Regions from separate parts of the Homo sapiens genome. Here all the other regions are linked to region 1. The links come from fine-mapping of genetic effects on gene expression. A gene starts in region 1. Each other region holds a variant in brackets. All regions are shown on one strand. Distances are between the middles of the regions. Region 1 holds the start of TMEM223 (transmembrane protein 223). Region 2 holds the start of POLR2G (RNA polymerase II subunit G). Region 3 holds the start of SNHG1 (small nucleolar RNA host gene 1).

Region 1 (8,176 bases):
CACCTAGCCATTTTTTTTGTATTTTTAGTAGAGACAGGGTTTCGCCATGTTGCCCAGGCTGGTCTTGAACTCCTGGGCTCAAGCTATTCACCCATCTCAGCCTCCCAAAGTGCTGGGATTACAGGCATGAGCTTCCATGCCCGGCCACAACTCACTCTTGGGAGCTACTGGGTCCTTGTATGGCTGTAGACCACAGAGCCCATACTTTCTTTTTTGTTTTTCCCATAGGTACTATGCAATTTACGACTCTGGAGACCGACAAGGGCTCCTGGATGCCTACCATGATGGGGCCTGCTGTTCCCTGAGCATTCCTTTCATTCCTCAGAACCCTGCCCGGTTAGTATCACATCCCAGAATCTGCCCGGGACCACTGGGTTTCCCAGCAGATACAGGGCACACCTGCTGGCAGCACTGCTCTGAACACCACGTCCATTCCTTTTATTCCCCCAGAAGCAGCTTAGCCGAGTATTTCAAGGATAGCAGAAATGTGAAGAAGCTTAAAGACCCTAGTAAGTGTGTGATACGAACAAAATATGGGAAAAGGGCATGGGAAGGAATCAGTCAGAACTCAGGAGTGTGTGGCAGCACCACTGAGCTTTCTCCTCTACCCACAGCCTTGCGGTTCCGGCTGCTGAAGCACACGCGTCTCAACGTTGTTGCCTTCCTCAATGAGTTGCCCAAAACCCAGCACGACGTCAATTCCTTCGTGGTAGACATAAGCGCCCAGACAGTAAGCTCCTGCTTGCGCCTGACAGAAGCCTAGAATTGGGGTGGGGGTGGCATTTAATAGGCAAGGGGGGGCACTCAGGCTCTGAGAAGTGTACATTGTACCTGATGCTGCTTCTCTTTCAGAGCACATTGCTGTGTTTTTCTGTCAATGGAGTCTTCAAGGAAGGTAAGAATCTTTAGAGTCCCGAGTTTGTAGCGTGGTCCCACCCCCAGCTGGAATTTTCCTCAGCACTCTTAGCTTCCCAGCTACTTTCTCTCCCATTTTCTTTTTGAGCTCCTTCTCCCATTCTGCCCCCAAGCCGTCTTGGCTTGGCCTACCTCTCCACCTGTCCTGTCTGGATGTGGGAAAAGCCTGGGGATTAGGAGGACTTTGGAGTCAGGCAGTTCTTAGTTTCCATCCTAGTTTTGGTTGTGCGGGGCTGTGGACAAGTAACATTACCTCTAAGACAGATTCTTTATTTGTAAGATGGGGTTAGTAATAGCCGTCTCATAGTGGTGCTATAGGAAGTAAACTGAAGTGACTTACAAAGTGCTTGGCCTGGGGCCTGGCATACAGATGCTATCAGTGGATTAGTAGTTATTACTTTTTTTTGAGATGGAGTCACACTCTATCACCAGGCTGGAGTGCAGTGGCGCAATCTTGGCTCACTGCAACCTCCGTCTCCTGGGTTCAAGTGGTTCTCCTGCTTCAGCCTCCCGAGTAGCTGGGACTACAGGTGCGCACTACCACGCCCAGCTAATTTTTGTATTTTTAGTAGAGAAGGGGTTTCGCCATGTTGGACAGGATGGTCTCGATCTCTTGACCTCGTGATCTGCCCACCTCAGCCTCCCAAAGTGCTGGGATTATACGCATGAGACACTGTGCCCGGCCGTAGTTATTACTATTGTCCTTTCTGACCTGACCCTTCACCCCACCTGTGCTTCCCTTATACCCTTATATACTTAATCATTCCTCTCTGACTTGCTAGGATTCTTTATATCAAAGACCATGATTCAAGAAGCTGTTTGTAAACATAAAGCACTAGTGACCCTAAGGTGTTGTTGCTGTTCTTATTGCAGTGGACGGAAAGTCCCGGGATTCTTTGCGAGCCTTCACCCGGACATTCATTGCTGTTCCTGCTAGCAATTCAGGGTAAGTATTCTGCTTTTCGCATTGGATACCAGTCCTAATCCATGGCCAACAGTGTGGTAATTGGAGGGTAGAGTCAGTCTTTGGGGTGATTTCAGAAAGGCAACAGGAAATCAGAGAAAGCTCACATAGTAGTTAAGAGCCAGTTAATAGCTTGGCTCTGGAATTGTACCGTCTGGGTTTTCATCCTGGCTCCACCACTTCTAGCAAGTAGGCTGCTGCCTCATCTGAAAATTCATATAACAATATTCATTTCCTAAGTTTGTTGTGAGGATGAATTAAAAGAGCTAAAGTCCATGCGTTGGGAGAACCCTAGTGTGTTTAGTAGATAATCCTTCCAAACATTGATTCCATGGGAGGGGATAAATGATAAAAGGTAACAATAGCTAAGAGTGGGAGGGGGACCTTGTGGATATTGAAAGAATCAGAGAATAGGAATGATGTTGGGAGGATGATGTTATCTCTGTCTAGCTTTTTAAGTGCTCTTTGTCCTCAAGGCTATGTATTGTAAATGATGAGCTATTTGTGCGGAATGCCAGTTCTGAAGAGATCCAAAGAGCCTTCGCTATGCCTGCACCCACGCCTTCCTCCAGCCCGGTGCCCACCCTCTCTCCAGAGCAGCAGGAAATGTTGCAAGCATTCTCTACCCAGTCTGGCATGAACCTCGAGTGGTCCCAGAAGTGAGTGCGGGGCATGTGTAGGATGGGGATGCACTGAAGTAGGGCTAGTAGTAAATAATGAGGGCTCCTGACAGTTTTTTTGTTTTTTTTTTGGAGACAAGTTCTTGCGCTGTCATCCAGGCTGGAGTATAGTGGTGATCATAACTCACTGTAGCCTCTAATTCCTGGGCACAAGCTGTCCTCCCACCTCAGCCTCCAGAGTAGCTGGGCCTATAGGCATGTGCCACCTTATTTTATTTTATTATTTTTTTTTTTTGGAGGTGGAGTCTTGCTATGTTGCCCAGGCTGGAGTGCAGTGGTGCGATCTTGGCTCATTGTAACCTCTGCCTCCCGGGTTCAAGCAATTCTCCAATCTCAGCCTCCCGAGTAGCTGGGATTACAGGCACACACCACCATGCCTGGCTAATTTTTGTATTTTTTTTTTTTTTTTTTTTTTTTAGTAGAGACGGGCTTTCATCATGTTGGCCAGGCTGGTCTCGAACTCCTGACCTTGTGATCTGCCTACCTCGGCCTCCCAAAGTGCTGGGATTACAGGCATGAGGCACTGCACCCAGCCAAATTTTTATTTGCTTGTTTGTTTTGAGACAGGGTCTCACTCTGATGCCCAGGCTGGAGTACAGTGGTGTGATCACAGTTCACTGCAGCCTCAACTGCTAGGGCTCAGGTGATTCTCCCACCTCAGCCACCTGAGTAGCTGGGACTACAGGCATAGGCCACAGCACCTGGCTAATTTTTTTGTATTTCTTTGCAGAGATGGGGTTTCACCATGTTGCCCACCTAGGCCTCCCAAAGTGCTGCGGTTATAGGTGTGAGTTACTGTGCCTGGGCTCCTGAAATTTTAAAAGGCAAAACTTTTGGCTGCTTAAAAAAACCTAATAGTTGGCTGGGAGAGGTGGCTCACACCTGTAATCCCAGCACTTTGGGAGGCTGAGGCGGCCAGATCACGAGGTCAAGAGATCAAGACCATCCTGGACAACATGGTGAAATCTCGTCTCTACTAAAAATACAAAAATTAGCGGGGCTTGGCGTTCCACGCCTGTAGTCCCAACTACTCGGGAGGCTGAGGCAGGAGAATTGCTTGAACCTGGAAGGCGGAGGTTGCAGTGAGCCGAGATCACGCCACTGCACTCCAGCCTGGTGACAGAGCAAGACTCGGTCTCAAAAAAAAAAAAAAAGCAAACAGAAAAACACAAACCTGATAGTCTATAAAAAATTTGCCTGTGTATAAATTAACATAAAAAACTTTAAAGGTAAAATGGAAGTTCCTTTTCATATACTGTTCTGCAACTTAGTTTCTTTACTTACACCATGAACATCTTTCCCTACCACTGTAAAAACTATCTTGAGCTTCTTGACAGCTATTTAATATTCCTTATCTTTGAGAAGCCATTGGTAGAACATCTGGACTTTTACTAATGTCTCATTTGTATAAATAGTGCAAGGATGTATAAGAATGTACATATTTGTTGGCAAACTTGGGTGCTTTTATGGAGTGGACTTTCAGCTGGCATTTACGAGTCAGAGTTCTTACAGAGCTGCCTGTTCTTCCACTCCAGGTGCCTTCAGGACAACAACTGGGACTACACCAGATCTGCCCAGGCCTTCACTCATCTCAAGGTAAGGTCTGGAAATACAGTGGCAAAAAGACTAGGATCTCTGGGCCTCCAGGAGGTCAGGTTAGCTGAGTGGGGTTGCTGAGTGGCGAGGGTAGGCCTACCTCTACTGACCTTCATTTTTCTCCAGGCCAAGGGCGAGATCCCAGAAGTGGCATTCATGAAGTGATCGTAGTCATGCCTCAGAAGCAGTCCCCCCTGTAAATAGTCCTTGGATATTACCGTCTGGTTGTCGTCTGTCATCTCCTCCTGTCTGGCCCGAGGCCGCCCCGTGACTGTGACCGAGGGAGGGAGGGCTGCCTGATCCCTCTCCTCGCCTGCCTTCTGGAAGACTTCAGAAGATTGAGCCTCACTGGTGCCAGGAAGCCAAAGCTTACTTTGTAGAACTGACACTAAACTACCCGAAGGACTTAGGTGCTTTGTGTACTTAACCCCAGGACCTCCTTACTTTTTAATATAAAGAGTGATGTTGTATTTCGTGTTCTGCACTTTTTAATATAAAGAGTGATGTTGTATTTCGTGTTCTGCGTGCTGGATTGGTTGTCTCCTCCCAGCCCTGAGCGAGGGGGGCGGGCCCTCTAGCGGGGGCGCCCAGGGAGGGCGGAAGGCGGCTCTGCGGCAGGAAGCCCCACCCCGGAAGTCGGCTGGCCATGGCGGCGCCTTGGAGGCGATGGCCCACGGGGCTGCTAGCCGTGCTGCGGCCCCTGCTCACCTGCCGGCCCCTGCAAGGCACGACGCTGCAACGGGATGTGCTGCTCTTTGAGCATGATCGGGGCCGCTTCTTCACCATCCTCGGGCTGTTCTGCGCGGGCCAGGGCGTCTTCTGGGCTTCCATGGCTGTGGCAGCCGTGTCCCGGCCCCCGGTTCCGGTGCAGCCTCTGGATGCGGAGGTCCCAAATCGTGGCCCCTTCGACCTGCGCTCCGCGCTCTGGCGCTACGGTCTGGCCGTCGGCTGCGGCGCCATCGGTAAGACGTGGGCTGGCTTCCCACTGTGACAACGTGGGGTGGCGGGACACGACCTTCCCTATACAGGCAGGGAGAGTCAGGGACTCCCTATCCGAGAGTGGCGGGCGGGCTTTACCCCACAGAAATGTGAAACACTGGCCGGGCGCGGCGGCTCAAATGCTGGGAGGCCGGAGGCGGGCGGATCACTAGGTCAGGACATCCAGACCATCCTGGCTAACACCGTCAAACCCTGTGTCTACTAAAAATACAAAAAATTAGCTGGGCGTGGTAGCAAGCGCCTGTAGTCCCAGCTACTCGGGAGGCTGAGGCAGGAGAATCAATTGAACCTGGGAGGCGGAGGTTGCAGTGAGCCGAGATGACGCCACTGCACTCCAGCCTAAGCGACCGAGCGAGACTCCCCTCTCAAAAAAAAAAATTGGGAAACAGTGATGTCTCCGAGCGCCGTGCCCTGTCATAGCCTAGGCTGAGGGCTGCCCTTCACTCTGCGACCTTGAGCAAGGTCCTTAAAGCTCTCCATCTTCCCATTAAAATGGAAACGGACATCTATTAAGGTTGTTGGGAGGAATAACAAGATTACTGGGTATAACAGGAGCTCAGTACTGCACTCCAGCCTGGCCGGCAGAGTGAGACTCAGTCTCAAAAAAAAAAGCGCTCAGTAAATACTACTTTCATCCCACAAATTTCTTATTCAGAGGGCACTGGAAAGGTCGGTACTTAGATGCCCAGTGAAAACCCCTCACCCCAATCTCTGCCCTGCCTGCAGGAGCCCTCGTACTCGGTGCTGGTCTTCTCTTCTCTCTCCGGTCTGTGCGCTCAGTGGTGCTTCGAGCTGGAGGGCAGCAGGTGACCCTCACCACTCATGCCCCCTTTGGCTTGGGGGCCCATTTCACAGTTCCTTTGAAGCAGGTATCTTGCATGGCCCACCGGGGTGAAGTCCCTGCCATGCTACCTCTGAAAGTCAAAGGCCGACGCTTCTATTTCCTCTTGGACAAAACTGGACACTTCCCTAACACAAAACTCTTTGACAATACTGTGGGTGCCTACCGGAGCTTGTGAAGAAATGACCTCAAGTCACTCACCTCTCCAAGAGGAGGATAAAAACTGAACCTTGGGGAGCCAGGTGTGTTGGTTCACACCTGTTGTAATCCCAGCACTTTGGGAGGGTGAGGCAGGAGCACTGCTCGAGCCCAGGCTGGGCAACATAGCGAGACCTTGTCTCTATTTACAAAAAAAAAAACAAAAAAAAACGCCAATCTTAGAATGGAGTAACAACCAGGGTCACACAAGGAGGTCAAGATTCATTAACAACAAATAAAGGAGCAGTCATCCCTAGGGCAGCTGCCTAACAGTACCTCTAAGTTTCAGTCCATGTCTGCTTAGCCTTCACTCCTTCCTCCTATCTAGTTGTACTTTAACATCAAAAACTCACTACTAAGATGAAGACAGTAATATAATATTTTGGTACAAAAACAGCTGCAGGAAGAGGTGGAGGGGGGCCTGTCATTATGTTTCCCCCCCACCCCCCAACGAAAGGAAAACTAAGACTCCCAACATAAACAGGGCCTTGAGGGGGGGGATTACAGGCACTTGGGCATGGAGTCTTCGGCTGCAGGAAGCACTCCGCTTATTCTTCAGGAATGGGAAAGGCGTGACCCAACGAGAGCATCTGTCTCAGAGCTCCACTCAGGGTCACCCCTCTCCAGAGGCCGGTATGGGGTGGCTTCAGACTTCCACTGCACGACCTGGAGCACCAAGACCACACACCACAATACCAAATTCACCCAAGAAGAGGTCTGTAGGAGACAGGGACAGGATCGTCAGGAGTGGGACCATTTCAAATCCAGTCCTTCCCACCCACACACCACTCTGAACTGCTGAATTTTAAGCTGACAACCCCTTCAGCTCCTCTCACTGGTAGGCCAAGCTCACAATACACTGGTGAGCACCCACACAGCTACAGATATTTATGTCAGTTTTTCCTCCTATCCTTGGGTCTCACTTCAGCATTGTGTAGGTTGGAGTAAAACTGCAGAGCAGTTCCAGGGGGTGTCCATGGAATTTTCTGGGCTTCAGAACAGCTGTGAGGTCAAAGAGACAGTTGTGAGAAAGCGTGATAGTTTATATCCGAGGCACACCTGTGCCCAGTGCCCTGTGAGTTGAGAGCAACTGATGGGGATAAAAGGAAATTATAGGACCCCGCTGCAGAGGGAAGGTAGTCAGCCCCAGCCAGGCTTCCCTCCCTCTCCCATTACCTAATTGTAGTGTTCAAGGAGATGATGGAGTTGCAGAGAGACCTGGTGCCAAATCGAAGGATACAGGCAGACACCAAGACCAGGAAGACGGCTATAGCTGAGATGGCCAGTGCAATGCGCAGCCCTATAGCACCTCTGAAAGGGAGAGAACAAGCCTTGTGGTGGAGGTGAGGCTCATCCTACCTCAGCCCCTGGCCCTCAGGGTTAGGCAGTCACCTGTGGGAGTCCTCGATGCAGCTGCTGTAGATCCAGAAGAGCAAAAGCAGGAGGCAGTAGAGGGCCAAGAGGCCAGAGGCCCCAGCTACAAAGTAGCACAGGGATGGTGCTGAGGGACGGGATAAGGCCAGGGAGGAGCCATTCAGGGTGGCCACACCATACAGGGGACATCTACCACTGAAGGAGCCCTGTGGAGAGAAGCTGCTGAGTCCTAGATTTCAGGTTAATGTCTCTAGATACAGTCTCTTGGTAGGGTGTTAGTGATAACTTAGGAATGGTCCTGCATTCCAGGAAGTTATTTGTGCACCGTCAATTCCTATTTCTGGGACAGGGATATTGATGGAGAGGGCCTGCTGGGGAATCACACCGGCAGTGGCCAGAAGGATCAGAAAATAGGCAATGAATATAGAATGCAATGAGCTTCAGAGAAGCCTCACAAGTTATGGTCTCTGTGCAGAAACCTTAGAGTAAACCCAGGCCTTGTATATCCTTCAACAAATAACTATCTGTGAGGTGCTTTTTTTTTTTTTTTTTGCTGGAGTGCAGTGGCGCCATCTCGGCTCACTGCACGCTCTGCCTTCTGGGTTCATG
Region 2 (8,176 bases), 31 kb after region 1:
TTTATGAGAAGTTACATCACAATCACTTCACTGTAAGCCCGGGGGCATATTGAATGCACATCACTTTCACACCATCGTAAAGTCATAAAATCATGAATCAAGCCATGGTAATTCGGGGACCATCTGTACTCAGCCATCCCCAGGCCAATATTCTCCCTCAGGATGGCTGATTCTCTCCTTGTCTCCCTGACTTCTTTCTGTCCACTCACCTCATCCATTGTCTTGTAACATGGTGGGTTGGAGTTAGGATCAAACTCCATCTCTGAAGGGATGGACTGAAAGGAAAGTGAGATCTAGGTTAGCACTTTAAATGGATGCTTCAATAGATGGTGATGAATGAGTATCTGTCTTCCTCAGCCCCACCCAGTGTGCCCAGACTTACATGTCGAGAGATGAAGCAAGACATGGGCCCAATTTCTGTGAAGAGTCCAACCTAGAAAAAAAATGAGTGATCTTACGGCCGTGCACGGTGGCTCACGCCTGTAATCCCAGCACTTTGGGAGGCCGAGGCCGGTGGATCACGAGGTCAGGAGTTTCAGACCAGCCTGACCAACATGGTGAAACCCCGTCATTACTAAAAATACAAAAATTAGCCGGGCATGGTGGCGTGCACCTCTAATCCCAGCTACTCAGGAGACTGAGGCAGGAGAATCGTTTGAACCCAGGAGGTGGAGGTTGCAGTGAGCCGAGATTGCACCATTGCACTTCAGCCTGGCAACAGAGCAAGACTCTGTCTCAAAAAAAAAAAACAAAAGAGTGATCTTGCCTTTTCTTTGTCCCCTCAAGTGTTGTGTTTTTGTTTTTTGCTTTTTAAATTTTGAGACAGGGTCTCACTCTGTTGCCCAGGTTGGAAAGTAGTGGTGCGATCACAGCTCACTGTAAATTTGAACTCCTGGGCTCAAGCGATCCTCCCACCTCAGCCTCCCAAGTTGCTGAAACCACAGGTGCACACCACCATGCTAGGCTAATTTTTAAAAACTTTTTGTAGAGACAGAGTCTTGATATGTTGCCCAGGCTGTCTCAAACTCCTAGGCTCAAGCAATCTTCCCACTTCTGCCCCCCAAAGCACTGGGATTATAGGTGTGAGCCAGCGCACCCAGCCCTTTTCTCTTTTTTTTTAAGCTTTCATTTGTATTTATTTACATATTTACTTTGAGACAGAATCTCACTCTGTTCTCCACTCTGGAGTGCAGTGATGCAATCTCAGCTCACTGCAACCTCCACCTCCCAGGTTCAAGTGATTCTCATGCCTCAGCCTCCCGAGTAGCAGGGACTACACGCACATGCCACAATGCCTGGCTAATTTTTGTATTTTTAGTAGAGATGGGGTTTCACCATATTGGCCAGGCTGGTCTTGAACTCCCACCCTCAGGTGATCTGCCCACCTCAGCCTCCCAAAGTGCTGGGATTACAGATGTGAGTCACCGCGCCCAGCCTAAGCTTTCATTTTAAAGTATTAAAGAGCTTAGGCCTGGGACGTGTTAGTCCAAGATTTGAACACCTGTTGGCCACATGATCTTGGCCAGTACACTTAATTTCTTCCAAGCTTCAGCTTCTGTAAAAAGCACCCACTGGCCGGGCACGGTGGCTCACGCCTATAATCCCAGCACTTTGGGTGGCTGAGCCAGGCAGATCACCTGAGGTCGGGAGTTCGAGACCAGCCTGACCAACATGGAGAAACCCCATCTCTACTAAAAATACAAAAATTAGCTGGGCATGGTGGCGCATGCCTATAGTCCCAGCTAGTTGGGAGGCTGAGGCAGGGGAATCGCTTGAACCCAGAGGCGGAGGTTGCAGCGAGCCGAGATTGCGCCACTGCACTCCAGCCTGGCAACAGAGCTAGACTCCGTCTCAAAAAAAAAAAAAAACCCACCTTTTAGAGTCATTGTGAGTCTCTGCACATCACCTAGCCCATAGTAACTACTCAATCAACACAGGCTTTTATTGTTATGACTATTAATACTGACTCTCTTGCCCTCTGAGTTAGGCAGGGCAAGATTACCATATAATTTGAAAGTGCAGGCCGGGCGCGGTGGCTCAAGCCTGCAATCCCAGCACTTTGGGAGGCCGAGGCGGGTGGATCACGAGGTCAGGAGATCGAGACCATCCTGGCTAACACAGTGAAACCCCGTCTGTACTAAAAATACAAAAAATTAGCCGGGCGTGGTGGTGGGCACCTGTAGACCCAGCTACTTGGGAGGCTGAGGCAGGAGAATGGTGTGAACCCGGGAGGCGGAGCTTGCAGTGAGTGGAGATCTCGCCACTGCACACCAGCCTGGGTGACAAAGCGAGACTCCGTCTCAAAAAAAAAAAAAAATAGCCGGCCATGGTGGCACGTGCCTTTAGTCCCAACTACTTGGGAGGCCGAGGCAGGAGAATCACTTGAACCTAGGAGGCAGAGGTGGCAGTGGCCAAGATCGCACCACTGCACTCCAGCCTGGGCAACAGAGCAAAACTCTCTCAAAAAAAAAAAAAAAAAAAAAAAGTGAAGTGACTTAGCCAAAGGCACAGAGTTATGAAGTGGAGCCAGAACCCAACCCAGATCTTCCGAGAGACTACCCCACTGCCTCCCCTATGTATGGTCTCACCTTGTTGACCTGAGTGACAACAGCATCCACGACCTCCCCTTTAAATGGCCGGAAAACAATGGCCTTGTACTTAACTGGATAAAGGACAAAGCCTCGGCCTGGCTGGATCACACCAGCACCAATATTGTCAATGGTGGTGACAGCAATTACAAAGCCATACCTGCAAGGAGGATGAGAAACAGGAAGACACTGTGTGTCCAAGAGCCTCTAAAGACATCTGCAATAAAAGTCGCTGAGCTCTTGGGGGTAGGGTCGGGGAGAGCAAAAGGACAAGTAGATAGCACCTCTGCTCCCAGAGAGCTTAATGACCAAAAGAAGACAGAACAGAGATCAGTATGTGTAAGACCAAATGCTGTTCTGGTAATTTCACAATAAATGTCCAAGAAGGCTGGAGTCCTTGAGGCAACAGATCTCAATCTTCGGGATGCCTGAGAATCATCTTCTTAAAATGCAGATTCTCAGGTCTGCCCCAGACAGTCTTGATTCTGTAGGGAATAAGGAGGCTCAGGAATCTGCATGTTCCTGCAGGTTTTTCTGATGCTGGAGGCCCAAGTACTCCACTGCCCTGAGCTGGGTCCCAGCTCATTAATATCAGAGAGGCCCCTCTGTGCAAAGCCCAGAGATGGTCAAATCCCAGGCTACTTCCTTCCTCCCCCAAACTCTCGATCTGCTTTTTCTGGTCATTCATTCAGAAGATATATAGAGGCCCATGGTGTGTGGTCCCTGGGCACAGGGGATAAGAGAAAACCAGCAGAATGACAGAGGGAGAGCAGACACAGGAACAATGATTACACTGTGAGCTCCACAGGGGCTGTCCTCATTCTATCTTGTTCCCATTCTACCTTGTTCTGAGCCCAACACGGGTCCTGGCACACACCAAGGGTTTTTAAAATGTTTGAGGAGTCAATGAATGACCCATCTCAGCTGAGAGAAGGAAGTCTTATTGTCCAGCATTGCAGAGGGCGC[C/T]CTGGGAACCCAAAGCAGGAAGCAACTGGCTGCCTGAGAGAGGAGAGGGGTCCCCAGAGTGGGTGGCAGGACGAGTAGGAGTTGGGGAGGGGTTGCAGGTATAGCGCCCCGTGTGCGCATCGAACGATCTGGCGGTGCGGTGAGCTCGACACTCACTTCCCTGTGCAGGTCCCCTCCACCTCGGTGAAGAGCTTCTGCTTCACCGTGTTGAGCAAGTTGGGGCCGAAGTAGCGCGGGTGCAGCAGGATTTCGTGCTCTAGGGAGATCTGCGGAGAAAAGTGGGATGGCGACCAGGCCAGGCGCTGGCAGGTTATTGGACGACAAGGGGAGTCTCGCGCCGGCGCCTGGCCTTGCTCTTCCTTTCCACCCAGCCCTTGCCGCCACCCTGAGCCCTGCTCACATGGTAGAACATCTTCCCAGACCAGGTAGGCAGGCAGAGTCCACACCTCCGACAGTCCCTGGGAATCCACCGGAAACACTTAGACGCCGCAACCCCAGTTCCGCGCTTGCTGCGACTAGGAGGGCGGAACACCACCTCCTCCGCGAGGGCGGAACTCCACCAGCTCCGCGGGTCTGATTGGGCCTCGCCGTCGTGGGCGAGAACCACTAAGCCCCGCCCCTCACCCCCGCCCCCCAGCCATCAAACGACAACTTTTTTTTTTGAGGCGGAGTCTCCCTCTGTTGCCCAGGCTGGAGTGCAGTGGCGCGATCTCGGCTCACTGCAACCTCCGCCTCCCGGGTTCAAGCGATTCTCCTGCCTCATCCTCCCGAGTAGCTGGGATTAAAGGCATGTGCCACCACACCTGACTAATTTTGTATTTTTAGTAGAGATGGGGTTTCTCCATGTTGGTCAGGCTGGTCTCAAACTCCCAACCTCAGGTGATCCACCCACCTCGGCCTCCCAAAGTGTTGGGATTACAGGAGTGAGCCACCGCGCCCGGTCGGCAACTATCTGAATTGCTTGAACCTGGGAGGCGGCCCGAGATCTTGCCACTGAACTCCAGCCTGGGCAACAAGAGCGAAACTCCATCTCAACAGATAGATAGATAGATAGATAGATAGATAGATAGATAGATAGATAGATAGATAATAGATAGATAGATAGATAGATAGATAGATTGATAAATGCTACCACTTACTGCTTTCTTCCTAGATGCCTGGGCAACAAGAGCGAAACTCCATCTCAATAAATAAAATAAATAAATAAATAAATGCTATCACTTACTACTTTCTTCCTAGATGCCAGACACTGTGCTAAGCGCTTGATATAATTCTCTCCCTTAATTCTCATAATAATCTACAGAAATTGGTGTAGAAATAAAAAAAAAATGTTTACGAGCCTTAGCCAAAAGGCCAAGAAGCTACAGAAAATAATGAAATTTAGGCCGGGCGCTGTGGTTTACGCCTGTAATACCAGCACTTTGAGAGGCCGAGGCGGGCAGATCATGAGGTCAGGAGATTGAGACCATCCTGGCTAACATGGCGAAACCCCGTCTCTACTAAAAATACAAAAAATTGGCCGGGCGTGGTGGCAGGCGTCTGTAGTCCCAGCTACTCAGGAGGCTGAGGCAGGAGAATCGCTTGAACCCGGGAGGCGGAGGGTGCAGTGAGTTGAGATCGCGCCACTGCACTCCAGCCTGGCGACAAAGCAAGACGGAGTCTCAAAAAAAAAAAAAAATTTAAGAGCTATTGGAAGCCCAAAAAACACTTTAAGCCTCGAGAGAGATATGACTGCGAGTCACATATAGTTTACAACTTCTGTTCTCAGATTATAGATTAACTCTTTTTTTTTTTTTTTTTTTTTTTGAGACGGAGTCTTGCTGTGTCGCCCAGGCTGAAGTGTAGGAAATCCATGACTATTTCATCCTCTGTTAAAAAATGTTACATGCGCCGGGCACTGGTGGCTCATGCCTGTAATCCCGGCTACTCGGCTACTGGGGAGGCTGGGGCAGGACAATTGCTTGAACCCGGGAAGCTGAGATTGCAAAGAGCCGAGATCGCTCCACTGCACTTCAGCCTGGGATGCAGAGCAAGACTCCCTCTCTCTTTTTTTTTTTTTAATAGAGACGGGGTTTCTCCATGTTGGTCAGGCTGGTCTCGAACTCCCGACCTCAGGTGATCCGCCCACCTCGGCCTCCCAAAGTGCTGGGATTACAGGCGTGAGCCACCGCGCCCGGCTGACTCCCTCTCAAAAAAAAAAAAAAAAAAAAAAAAAAAAAAAAAAAAAGTTACATGCAAATCACGAGATCAGAAGTTCAAGACCAGCCTGGCCAAAATAGTGAAAACCCATCTCTACTAAAAATACAAAAAATTAGCCGTGTGTGGTGGCAGGTGCCTGTAATCCCAGCTACTCCAGAGGCTGAGGCAGAAGAATGTCTTGAACCCGGGAGGCGGAGGTTGCAGTTAGGCAAGATCTTGACACTGCACTCCAGCCCAGGCAACAGTGCGAAACTCCAAATAAAAAAAAATTGGAAAAAAAAAGTTACATGTATACTTCCCAAAAAGAAACATTGTCTATAGCCAACCAAATTGCTATAACTATGTACCAATCTTCTGTGAAAAATGTAATCCTGCTAAAAAGTCATGTGTGCTTGCCTATATAAATGAAATCTTAACTTTCTTACTTCACAACACTGACTCCATTCTTCTGGAGTTGGTGGTTCCAGGTGTTCCATTCTCATACTTCGCACTTGAAAAAACTCTAAATTAGGTTCTGACCCGTCGGATTATTTTAGGTTGACACTGATACTATTATTATTCCTACCTTATACATAAGCCAGAAAAAGATTAAGGGGAGGTATTTGGGTATGAATAGCTGACCTGCTCCAAAGCTTGTGTTCCTTTTTTTTTTCTTTTTTCTTTCTTTCTTTTTTTTTTTGAGTTGGAGTCTCACTCTGTCGCCTAGGCTGGAACTTAGTGGTGCAATCTCGGCTCGCTGCAACCTCCGCCTCCCAGATTCAAGTGATTCTCCTGCCTCAGCCTCCCAAGTAGCTGGGATTACAGGCGCCCACCACCACGCCCAGCTAATTTTTTTTTTTTTTGTATTTTTAGTAGAGACCAGGTTTCACCATGTTGGCCAGGCTGGTCTCGAACTTCTGACCTTAGGTAATCCATCTGCCTCAGCCTCCCAAAATGCTGGGATTACAGGCCTGAGCCACTGCGCCCGGCCCCACCTTTTTTTTTTCTTGAGAAAGGGTCTCATTCTGTCACCCAGGCTGCCAGGCTGGAGTGCTCATTGCATTCCCCAGCTACAGGTATGGGTCACCATGCGCGGGTAATTTTTTATTTTTTGCAGAGATGTGGGTCTTACTCTGTTGACCAGGCTAGTCTTGAACTTCTGGCCTCAAGTGATCCTCTTGCTTTTGTCTCCCAAAGTGTTGGGATAACAAGTGTGAGCCCTCACACCTGGGAAAGTCGCATTCTTCACTACTGTAAACTCTACTGCCTGAGACTGAAACTTTGGATAAAAAAGACACCAAAGCAATGACAAGGATTGTTGTGTCTGCTCCTCAAAGTGTGTGCACGTAGAGCCTGAAAGCTCAGAACAGCAATTCTGAAGTTGTGGTCCCCAAAAGAACCTTTCAGGGGATTGGTGAAGTGCTCTTCTAGTTACATGTCTGTGTGAGACCAAATTTTCTTCATGTATTTCAATCAAAACAATATATCCTAATAGCTAATAGAAGCAGATGTGAAAATCGAGCTGTCTCCTATCGAAACAGTGTGATATTGTGAAATATACGTTTCTTTGACCCTATTTTCTGCCATACAACTCCTAAATCTCTAAAGTGATTTTTTTGGTATGCTAATGTTAACTGATGGCTGGCAGGCCCTAGGTAGCTTCCGGATGGGGGCTGGTCACCATAAAGAGCAGGGCATGATTGGAAGGTTGGGGTTTTCAGCCCACCCCCAACTTCTGGGGAGTGGAGGGGGTGCTGAACTGTTGAGTTGATCACCAATGGCCAATCGTTTCAGCAGTCATGCTTGCATAATGAAGCATCCACAAAAATCCAAAAGGACTGGGTTCAGAGATTCCACATAGCTGAACACCTGGAGGTTCCTGGAAGGTGGCACACCGGAAGAGGGCTCGGAAGCTCCACATCCCTTCCCCCATACCTCACCCTAGGCACCTCTTCATCTGCATCCTTTCAAATAGCCTCTATAATAAACCAGTAAAGGTAAGTAGGTGTTTCCCTGATTTCTATGAGCCACCCTAGCAAGTTAACCAAGCCCAAGTAGAGTTGTGGGGGCCTAGATTTACAGCTGGTCAGTCAGAGGCATAGGTAAAACAGCCTGGGGCTTTTGACTAGCATCAGAAGTCAGGGGCCATGTCTGGTAAACAATAATTTGATTTAAAAAAAAAAAAAAAGGAAGGGAGGGAGGGAGGGAGGCAGGGGAAAGAGAGAGACAAGAGAGAGAAAGAAGAAAAGAAAAAGGGGAAAAGAGAGAGAGAAAAGAAAGAGAGAGACAGAGAGAGACAAATAAAGAGACAAAGAAAGAAATAGAAAGAAAGGAAAGAAAGGAAGGAAGGAAGGAAGGAAGGAAGGAAGGAAGGAAGGAAGGAGAAAGGAAAAGAAAAGGAAGGAAAAGAAAAGAAATAAAAGAAAAAAGGAGAGAAAAGAAAC
Region 3 (8,176 bases), 59 kb before region 1:
GTCTACGCCCTCCTTCCCTGGAACTCTCTACCCACAACTCCCCGGGGTCGCATGCGGTCAACGTATGCGCGTGCGCTCGCCGTAGCCCCGCCCCCAAATCCCGTGGGCCTCTGCGGCATGGTATTTAATCGTCTCCCCGGGGAGATTCGTTCTCATTTTTCTACTGCTCGTGGTAAGTGGCTTCGTGGTCTTTATAGCTGTTACTCTTTTGTACTTTGTCTTTTTCTTTTATTTTCTTTTGAGCGATTGTGCGAACATAGCATAGCACGCACTATGCCTTCTGTGTTGTAGCTGCCTGGCCAGGGCGACTGGCGGATAAGGTCTTGTGCGTGGCCTCGAGGCTTAAAAGTAGCAGTGGGGCTTTGTGAAGGACAAAATGGCGATGGCGGGCCGTGTAGGTCCCCCTTCCTATGATGAGGACCTTTTCACAGACCTGTACTGAGCTCCGTGAGGATAAATAACTCTGAGGAGATGGGCCCTGCAAGCCTCTTGCTTAGCCGTCTGTTCAGAAAATAGCGTTTTCGAAATGCCCTGAGTTGACCTAATGTCTTATTGGGCTCCTGTCTGCAGGATTTACGCGCACGTTGGAACCGAAGAGAGCTCTGTTGTTGCAGTAAGTTCTTACGGCCATTTCTTAATCTCTGCTCTTTCGTTGAGTGTGTGGAAGTTGCTACGGGGATGATTTTACGAACTGAACTCTCTCTTTCTGATGGATTAGTGGAGAAAACAGAAAATTCTGAGTAGCACTGTACTGTACGCAACAAATGTCAGGGCCCTATTGATTTGTCTGAGGTGTTAGTGAAGGGTGTTATTTTTTCAGATGTTCAGCCCACAAGAGCTTACTGGTGAAGGAATGGGACAAGACCCATCTTTATGCAAAGCCAGCGTTACAGTAATGTTCCAGGTAGGTGTACATGGTTTATGCTCTTACAGAGGAGACCTTGTAGATAACCACTCCATGATGAACACAAAATGACAAGCATATGGCTGAACTTTCAAGTGATGTCATCTTACTACTGAGAAGTGAGAGAGAGGTCTTAAGGGGTCTTTGAATGACTATTTTTAGGTACATAAAATGCTTTCCTCTGTTGTCTACAGCATCTCATAATCTATCCTGGGGAATTCAGCTGCCTCCCAGGGTGAATACAGGTAATTATCCAAATTGGTGTATGTCATCTTTGTAAATGTTCAAGAAAACAAGTGGCCGGCGGAACAATGTTTTTTGGCGCCTTCCATCTTGTTCCTCTTGAAATGATTTTCTGGGGAGGGAGATCGCAACCCGGTACTACAGTTCTTGTAAGGGTGTGCTGTTACCCTCATCCATATATCGATCACGTTACTGTCAGATGATTTGAATTGATAAGCTGATGTTCTGTGAGGTACAAAAGTTAATAGCATGTTAGAGTTCTGATGGCAGTTGTTGTTTATGAATAAGCTTCATTCCATCCTAATACCTTAAAATAACTAATTTGCTTTCCTTTCCAGGTATTCCTGATGACAGTCTGCCTCTATCTTACAGTAAGTTGTTTTTCGAATTCTATGGGCCTATTATCTAATAGATAACTTAGCCATTTTGATATTTGTTACCAAAGCCTGCTTAACCCATAAAGTTTTCTGGTTCCTCTTGTTCTCTGTAGTGATGTTTCTAGATAGATGCCCACTGATATATGCCCCTTTTTTCTCAGATAGATGCCCACTGATCTGCCCAGGGTCAGACGAATGCTTGTCAGTTGTAGCTTTCCAGGATTCTGCTCCAATGAGGAGGAAACATCCTGCCTTACCCCTGTTTTAGCCTGGGAACCAGTAATTGTGAACTCACCAGGGTTAACATGAAGAGGGCATGAGAGCTTATTCCATAAGGAATTGTCTGAGACATTTGGTTACCTTTTCTTAGTTTGTCCATTAGCAACCGTAACTAAAATAGTTTTGGCTGTTTGGGATAATTAGCTAATTGAATGATTTTTTGATTCAGGAGCAGCTTGTTGCTATATACCATTGAAAAGCCTTCAGAGCTGAGAGGTTAGTTGATATTTTTTGTTCCTTACAGCTTATGCCACCAAGTAGGCAGTTTCTATGATGAATCAAACTAGCTCACTATGACCGACAGTGAAAATACATGAACACCTGAGAAACTGGAGAACGCAGGGAGTGGGGGGTAACCATGTCTGAGGAATCTTTCACCCACAGCTTTGTTTTTCTCTAGGTACTACTAACCAATAACCTGCTTGGCTCAAAGGTGAGTAATTTCACGGTATTCAATGCACTCAGTATATAGGGTAGGAAAAAGTGCCTTTTTAGGCCTGTGTTTGTGATGACTTACATGGAATCTCGTTCGGCTGATGACTTGCTGTTGAGACTCTGAAATCTGATTTTCTGAGAATGATGGGTGGGAACAACATAATGCGGGATATGAGAAGCACTACTGACTTGGTCTTCCTCCTTTCAGGGCCAGCACCTTCTCTCTAAAGCCCAAGAGGAGTTTGAGGTAAATGGCTTTGCAATAGTTACCATCAATGGCTGCTATATAAAATTTTCTGTGATTTTTGTGTGTGATAGCACTGTGGTCTGGGTGAATGTACACAGACATAACTGGCTTAACCCAAAGTCTTTGATCTCCTGAACCACCAGTGATGAATTGCTGCTCACCAGTGATGAGTTGAATACCGCCCCAGTCTGATCAATGTGTGACTGAAAGGTATTTTCTGAGCTGTGAGCCTGCCTTCCAGTGACATGTTCTAAAAATTGCAAGTTATTTGAGGAGGCTTTACAGCCAATAGGAAGTTCTTGGGCTAAGTAGTGTTTCCTATAAAATGTGCCCTGAAACTTCTTTCTGCCAAGCAATAGATACAATTGAGAGATTGTAAAATGTGACATAGAATGAAAGTCTCTCAAGACTACATTTTTCTTTCTTGATTTTGCAGGAAAACTAGGTGTCTGTGTTCACTCCAGGCTGAAGTTACAGGTGAGTAAACCTAAATGTAAGGTGGACTATGCTAAAAATTCCCAATGAAGAAACTTTCACATGTCTTACTCTCTGTCCTAGTCCCAGAGCCTGTAAAGGTGAACCCACTGGGACTGGCTGGGGGAGAAGAGGAAGATTTGTTCCAGAAGGAACTGTCTGAGGGATGATAAAGATTTCTATACAGAGAAAGGGAGTAATCATCACTTGTTGAAAACATTGGTTTTATTTTTTCCAGGTCTGAGCAAATAAGGTGTATAAAAAATGGTAGGTATCTGTTTAAATATTTAACTGATTTTATAATAGCAACCTTTTGCTCCTAGGTTACATAGTGTTAAATATTGTGTTCATTTGTATTTTCCAATCCAATAAGAACTTTTTTTTTTACCTCTGCAGGAATCTGTCTTGGAGGACATCAGAAGGTGAATTTTCCAAGTTCTTGGACAACCTAGCTGTTGAAAAGCTTTCTGGGTTTGGGGGGTATTTCAGATGTACCTTAAAGTGTTAGCAGACACAGATTAAGACACTGGGAGCCAATGAAACAGCAGTTGAGGGTTTGCTGTGTATCACATTTCTGTATTTTATCACCCCCTTCCTGCAACATTATTTATCTGGAATCTACCTGCCCTTTTGTTTTTTAGATACAAGGGCTTGGTTTTGTTACCCAGGCTGGTTTCAAGGCCATAGCTTTAAGAGATCCTCTCACCACAGATTTCCAAAGTGCTGGGATTGCAGGTGTGATTCATGGCACCCAGACTTTGCTGCCTTTCTTACATGATCCAGGCCCAGAACCCAAACTCAGGCACTGTATAGATGACCACTTTCGTAAACTACTGACCTAGCTTGTTGCCAATTGTTGATTGAACTTCCCATAACTCCACTTCGTGTCTGTTCCTCTGTATACAGCCACCTTCTGTTCC[C/T]GTCATGAGCCTTTAGGTCTCCATTTGCATATTGCAAATACTATGTTCCATGTAGGTAGCTCATTCAGGGCCTTGCTCTTCACTTCAAAAAAGGTTCCCTTGAGGACTGGCTGTCAATTTGTGTTGCTGTGTTGGTTGTTGATGAAAATAATAAAATGATTGATTACATAGTCCTGTTTACTTTTTTTGTGTGTATGTGTCTCTTAGCATCAGTGTGTAAATTTCCATGGGAAACTGGCTTTCCTCTCATGCTCCCTGAAGTACCTGGAACTTGAAGGGACATCTGACAGTTTGCCTGATAGGCAGTGTGTTAAATGAGTAACCTGAGTAGAACATCCATCTTTTTTTTTTTTCTCTTGCCTAGTCTTAGAGTACAGTGACATGATCACAACCTCACTGCAGCTTCAAGCTTTTGGGCTTAAGCAAACCTACTTGACTTTAACCAGCAGCTGGGGCTGGGACTACAGACACCACACCCAGCCCAAATCTGTTTTTTCCTGGGGGAAGCAAGGGACAATGGAGTCAAGCTGGAGTGCAGTAGTGCCATCTCGCCTCCCTGCAGCCTCCACCTGGATTGAGTGATTGTCCTGCCTCAGCCCCGAGTAGCTGGGATTGCAGATACCTGTCACGAAGCAAGCCTAGTTATTGGGATTTTAGTAGAGGTTTCACTATGTTGACCAGGCTTAGTCCTGACCTCAAGTGATCTGCCTGCCTCCCAAACCTGTGCCTTTTTTTTTTTTCTGAGGTGGAATCTCGTTCTTGTCACCCAGGCTGGAATGCAGTGGCATTATCTTGGCTCACTGTAACTTCACCACCTGGGTTCAAGCCATTCTCCCTGCCTCAGCCTCCTGAGTAGCTGGAACTACAGCCGCATGCCACCACACCCGGCTACTTTTTTGTATTTTTAGTACAGATGGGGTTTCACCGTGTTAACAGGATGGTCTCGATCTGACCTCATGATCCGCCTGCCTCGGCCTCCCAAAGTGTTGGGATTACAGGTGGGAACCACTGCACCCAGCCAAATTATGCTTTTTATTTTATTTTTTTGAAACGGAGTTTCTCTGTTATTTCCCAGGCTGGAGTGCAATGGCAGGATCTCTGCTCACCGCAACCTCCGCCTCCCAGGTTCAAGCGATTCTCCTGCCTTAGCCTCCCAAGTAGCTGGGATTACAGGCATGCGCCACCATGCCTGGCTAATTATTGTGTGTGTGTGTGTGTGTGTGTGTGTGTGTATATGTATATATATATATATATATATTTTTTTTTTTTTCAGTAGAGACGGGGTTTCTCCATGTTGGTCAGGCTGCTCTTGAACTCCTGACCTCAGGTGATCCACCCGCCTCGGCCTCCCAAAGTGCTGGGATTACAGGCATGAGCCACGGTGCCTGGCCAAATCTCTGCTTTTTAATTGGCCTTGAGGAAGAAGGGAAAGCACAGGGACAGTGCCAACCTGTGGATACTATGGGGTACAGAGTTGTGTATGGTTAGGTCAGCAGCTCTCAATTTTTTCAGACGGTCTTGCTCTGTCACCCAGGCTGTGGTACAGTTGTGCGATCACAGCTCACTGCAGCCTCAACTTGCTGGGCTCCAGTGATTCTCCCACCTCAGCCTCCCAAATAGCTGGGACCACAGGTGCACACCACCATGCCCAGCTAATTTTGTATTTTTGTTAGAGACAGTTTCACCATATTACCTAGGCTGGTCTTGAACTCCTGAGCTCAAGCAGTCCACCCAACTCTGCCTCCCAAAGTGCTGGGATTACAGACATCTGCACCTGGCTGCTTTTCTTTGTTTTTTGTTTTTTGTGGGTTTTTTTTTAAGCCACCAGGTATTAAAGCCGGTTCTCAATCTTTTTAACCAGGCAGAATATGTTTGGAGAGATTTCTTCAGTTTTTTCTGTTTTTTTTTTGTTTGTGTGGTTTTTTTTGTGTGTGTGTTTGTTTTTGTTTCTTTTGAAGCTCTTTGTCACCCAGGCTGGAGTGTAGTGGTGTCATCATGTCTCAACACAGCCGCAAGCTCCTGGGCTCAAGCGATCCGACACCTGAGTTTCCCGAGTAGCTGGGACTATAGGGACATGCCTACTATGCCCAGGTAATTTTAATTTTTTGTAGAGATAGTCTCACTATGTTGCCCAAGTTGGTCTCGAACTGGGCTCAAGTGATCCCACTGCCTCAGTGTCTCAAAGTGTTGAGATTACAGGCATGAGCCACTGCACCCTGCATCCCTCAGAAGAGCAATTTTTTAAATCTTCCCTGAGCTTGGAGACTCCAGCCTGCATTGACAGGTAGCCCCCCTTTGGGTGATTCTGTTGTAAGCCACCAGATAATGACTACCCTTATATTTCTCAAAGTGTTTGGGAGAATGGACACCAAGTAGTGATAAATTACGGGATTTTTACCTGTTTTATTTTTTATTTATTTACTTTTTTTTTGTTTTTTGAGAAGGAGTTTCGCTCTGTCACCCAGGCTGGAGTGCAGTGGTGTGATCTCGGCTCACTGCAACCTCTGCCTCCCGGGTTCAAGCGATTCTCCTGCCTCAGCTTCCCAAGTAGCTGGGACTACAGGCGTGTGCCACTACACCCAGATAATTTTTGTATTTTTAGTAGACACGGGGTTTCACTATATGTTGGCCAGGCTGGTCTCGAACTCCTGACCTCAGATGATTCACCCACCTCGCCCTTCCAAAGTGCCAGGATTACAGGTGTGAGCCACCGCACCAGGCCCTGTTTTTAATTTTTGTTTGTAAATTTTAGGATTTCTCCGGTCAGAATTATAAGAACAGCAACTCAGCTGAAACAACACACATTTTTTGCTCATTAAATGGTAGCCACATAGACTTGAGAGTTGTCAGCACAATAATTTACAACCACAAGAATGGAAGAGTCAATTCTGAGAAGACCACCCAAGGACCCTAGGGGAGCACCAGAATTTAGAGATGGAGGATCAGCAGAACAGAAACTTAGAAAAGCAGTGCAAGCAGTGGGAACCTGCACGGTACTGACTTGCAAACTGAGGGAAGTCTCCCCACTGCCCACAGCTGAATCTTTTGTTAAAGCCACAAAGAAGTCAGGTGGGGACTGGCCAGGTGCAGCGGCTCACACCTGTAATCCCAGCACTTTGGGAGGCAAAGGTGGGCTGATTACCTGAGGTCACAAGTTCAAGACCAGCCTTGCCAACATGGTGAAACCCCATCTTTACTAAAAGAAATGAGCCGGGTGTAGCGGCATGCACCTGTAGTCCCAGCTACTCAGGAGGCTGAGGCAGGAGAATCTCTTGAACCTGGGAGGACTCCAGCCTGGACGACACAGCAAGACTGTATCTCAAAAAAAAAAAAAAAAAAAAAAAAAAGGCCGGGCACAGTGGCTCACACCTGTAATCCCAGCAGTTTGGGAGGCTGAGACAGGCGGATCACCTGAGGCCAGGAGTTCAAGACCAGTCTGACCAACATGGAGAAACCCTGTCTCTACTAAAAATACAAAATTAACCGGGCATGGTGGCATGTGCCTGTAATCCCAGATACTCGGGAGGCTGAGGCAGGAGAATCGCTTGAACCCGGGAGGCAGAGGTTGTGGTAAGCTGAGATCGCACCATTGCACTCCAGCCTGGGCAACGAGAGAAACTCCATCTCAAAAACAAAAAAAGAAATGAGACTGGGACAATATGGAGAAATGGAGGAGAAGGCCAGAATGATTGAGGCCTGGCTCTTCACATTTCTTCTGTACATTAATGACTCAGACTACAAGGTCTTTAGCAAGAACCTCTTCCCTAAGCTCCAGAGGAGCTTGCAGTGAGCCGAGATCACACCACTGCACTCCAGCTGGTTGACAGAGCGAGATTCCATCTCAAAAAACAAAAAAAGAAAAAGAAAAAAAAAAAGAAAATCACCTGGCCACAGTGCCTCAGTCTCCTCTTCTGTAAAAGGGAACATTAAAAGCACCTACTTATCTCTTAAGGTTGTTAATACATATAAAGTACCTGTAATGGTGCCTGGCACCATTGACCAGCAGGCTAGAGACCTTGAGTCAGTCATCACCAGAGAACAGAGGGAAGGAAAGCCAGGGCCCTACATGGGACATTTCAGCAGAGTGTGAATAGAGGGAGAAAATGCAAATACCTGGCCAGGCATGGTAGCTCATGGCTGTAATCTCAGCACTTTGAGTGGTGAAGGCAGGAGGGTTGCTTGAGGCCAGGAGTTCAAGACCTGCCTGGGCAACATAGCAAGACCCCATCTCTACAAAAAATTAAAATTAGCCAGGCATAGTGGTGCATGCCTGTAGTCCTAGGTACTTGGGAGGCTA

What was found.
Region 2: its variant is fine-mapped to the expression of TMEM223 in whole blood (INTERVAL, PIP 0.92).
Region 3: its variant is fine-mapped to the expression of TMEM223 in whole blood (INTERVAL, PIP 0.97).

The regions. Positions count from the first base shown.
Region 1 is chr11:62,788,620-62,796,795 of GRCh38, reverse strand. It overlaps TMEM223 (transmembrane protein 223), which reads left to right and starts at 4,790. Exons shown (of 2, transcript NM_001080501.3): 1 at 4,790-5,117; 2 at 5,881-6,825. The coding sequence starts at 4,802. The coding sequence ends at 6,173. TMEM179B (transmembrane protein 179B) reads right to left here. Exons shown (of 5, transcript NM_199337.3): 2 at 7,586-7,773; 3 at 7,370-7,504; 4 at 7,117-7,195; 5 at 6,396-6,910. The coding sequence ends at 6,749. It overlaps NXF1 (nuclear RNA export factor 1), which reads left to right. Exons shown (of 21, transcript NM_006362.5): 14 at 229-336; 15 at 451-509; 16 at 615-730; 17 at 853-895; 18 at 1,789-1,861; 19 at 2,356-2,538; 20 at 4,095-4,155; 21 at 4,282-4,666. The coding sequence ends at 4,320. MIR6748 (microRNA 6748) reads right to left here and starts at 6,981; the gene lies at 6,911-6,981. It also overlaps MIR6514. RefSeq lists a silencer at 4,661-4,810 and an enhancer at 4,881-5,390.
Region 2 is chr11:62,757,439-62,765,614 of GRCh38, reverse strand. POLR2G (RNA polymerase II subunit G) reads right to left here and starts at 4,035. Exons shown (of 8, transcript NM_002696.3): 1 at 3,955-4,035; 2 at 3,711-3,820; 3 at 2,589-2,748; 4 at 383-433; 5 at 210-275. The coding sequence starts at 3,966. RefSeq lists an enhancer at 3,827-4,026. The variant C/T (reference allele first, on the strand shown) is at 3,555.
Region 3 is chr11:62,847,861-62,856,036 of GRCh38, reverse strand. SNHG1 (small nucleolar RNA host gene 1) reads left to right here and starts at 152. Exons shown (of 9, transcript NR_152585.1): 1 at 152-613; 2 at 821-904; 3 at 1,486-1,518; 4 at 1,973-2,019; 5 at 2,204-2,236; 6 at 2,447-2,485; 7 at 2,922-2,962; 8 at 3,198-3,226; 9 at 3,356-4,059. It overlaps SNORD22 (small nucleolar RNA, C/D box 22), which reads left to right and starts at 3,002; the gene lies at 3,002-3,127. SNORD31 (small nucleolar RNA, C/D box 31) reads left to right here and starts at 2,644; the gene lies at 2,644-2,711. SNORD30 (small nucleolar RNA, C/D box 30) reads left to right here and starts at 2,305; the gene lies at 2,305-2,374. It also overlaps SNORD29, SNORD28, SNORD27, SNORD26, SNORD25 and LOC124900306. RefSeq lists enhancers at 39-218, 329-408, 1,046-2,020, 5,298-5,357, 5,408-5,597 and 1 more. The variant C/T (reference allele first, on the strand shown) is at 3,880.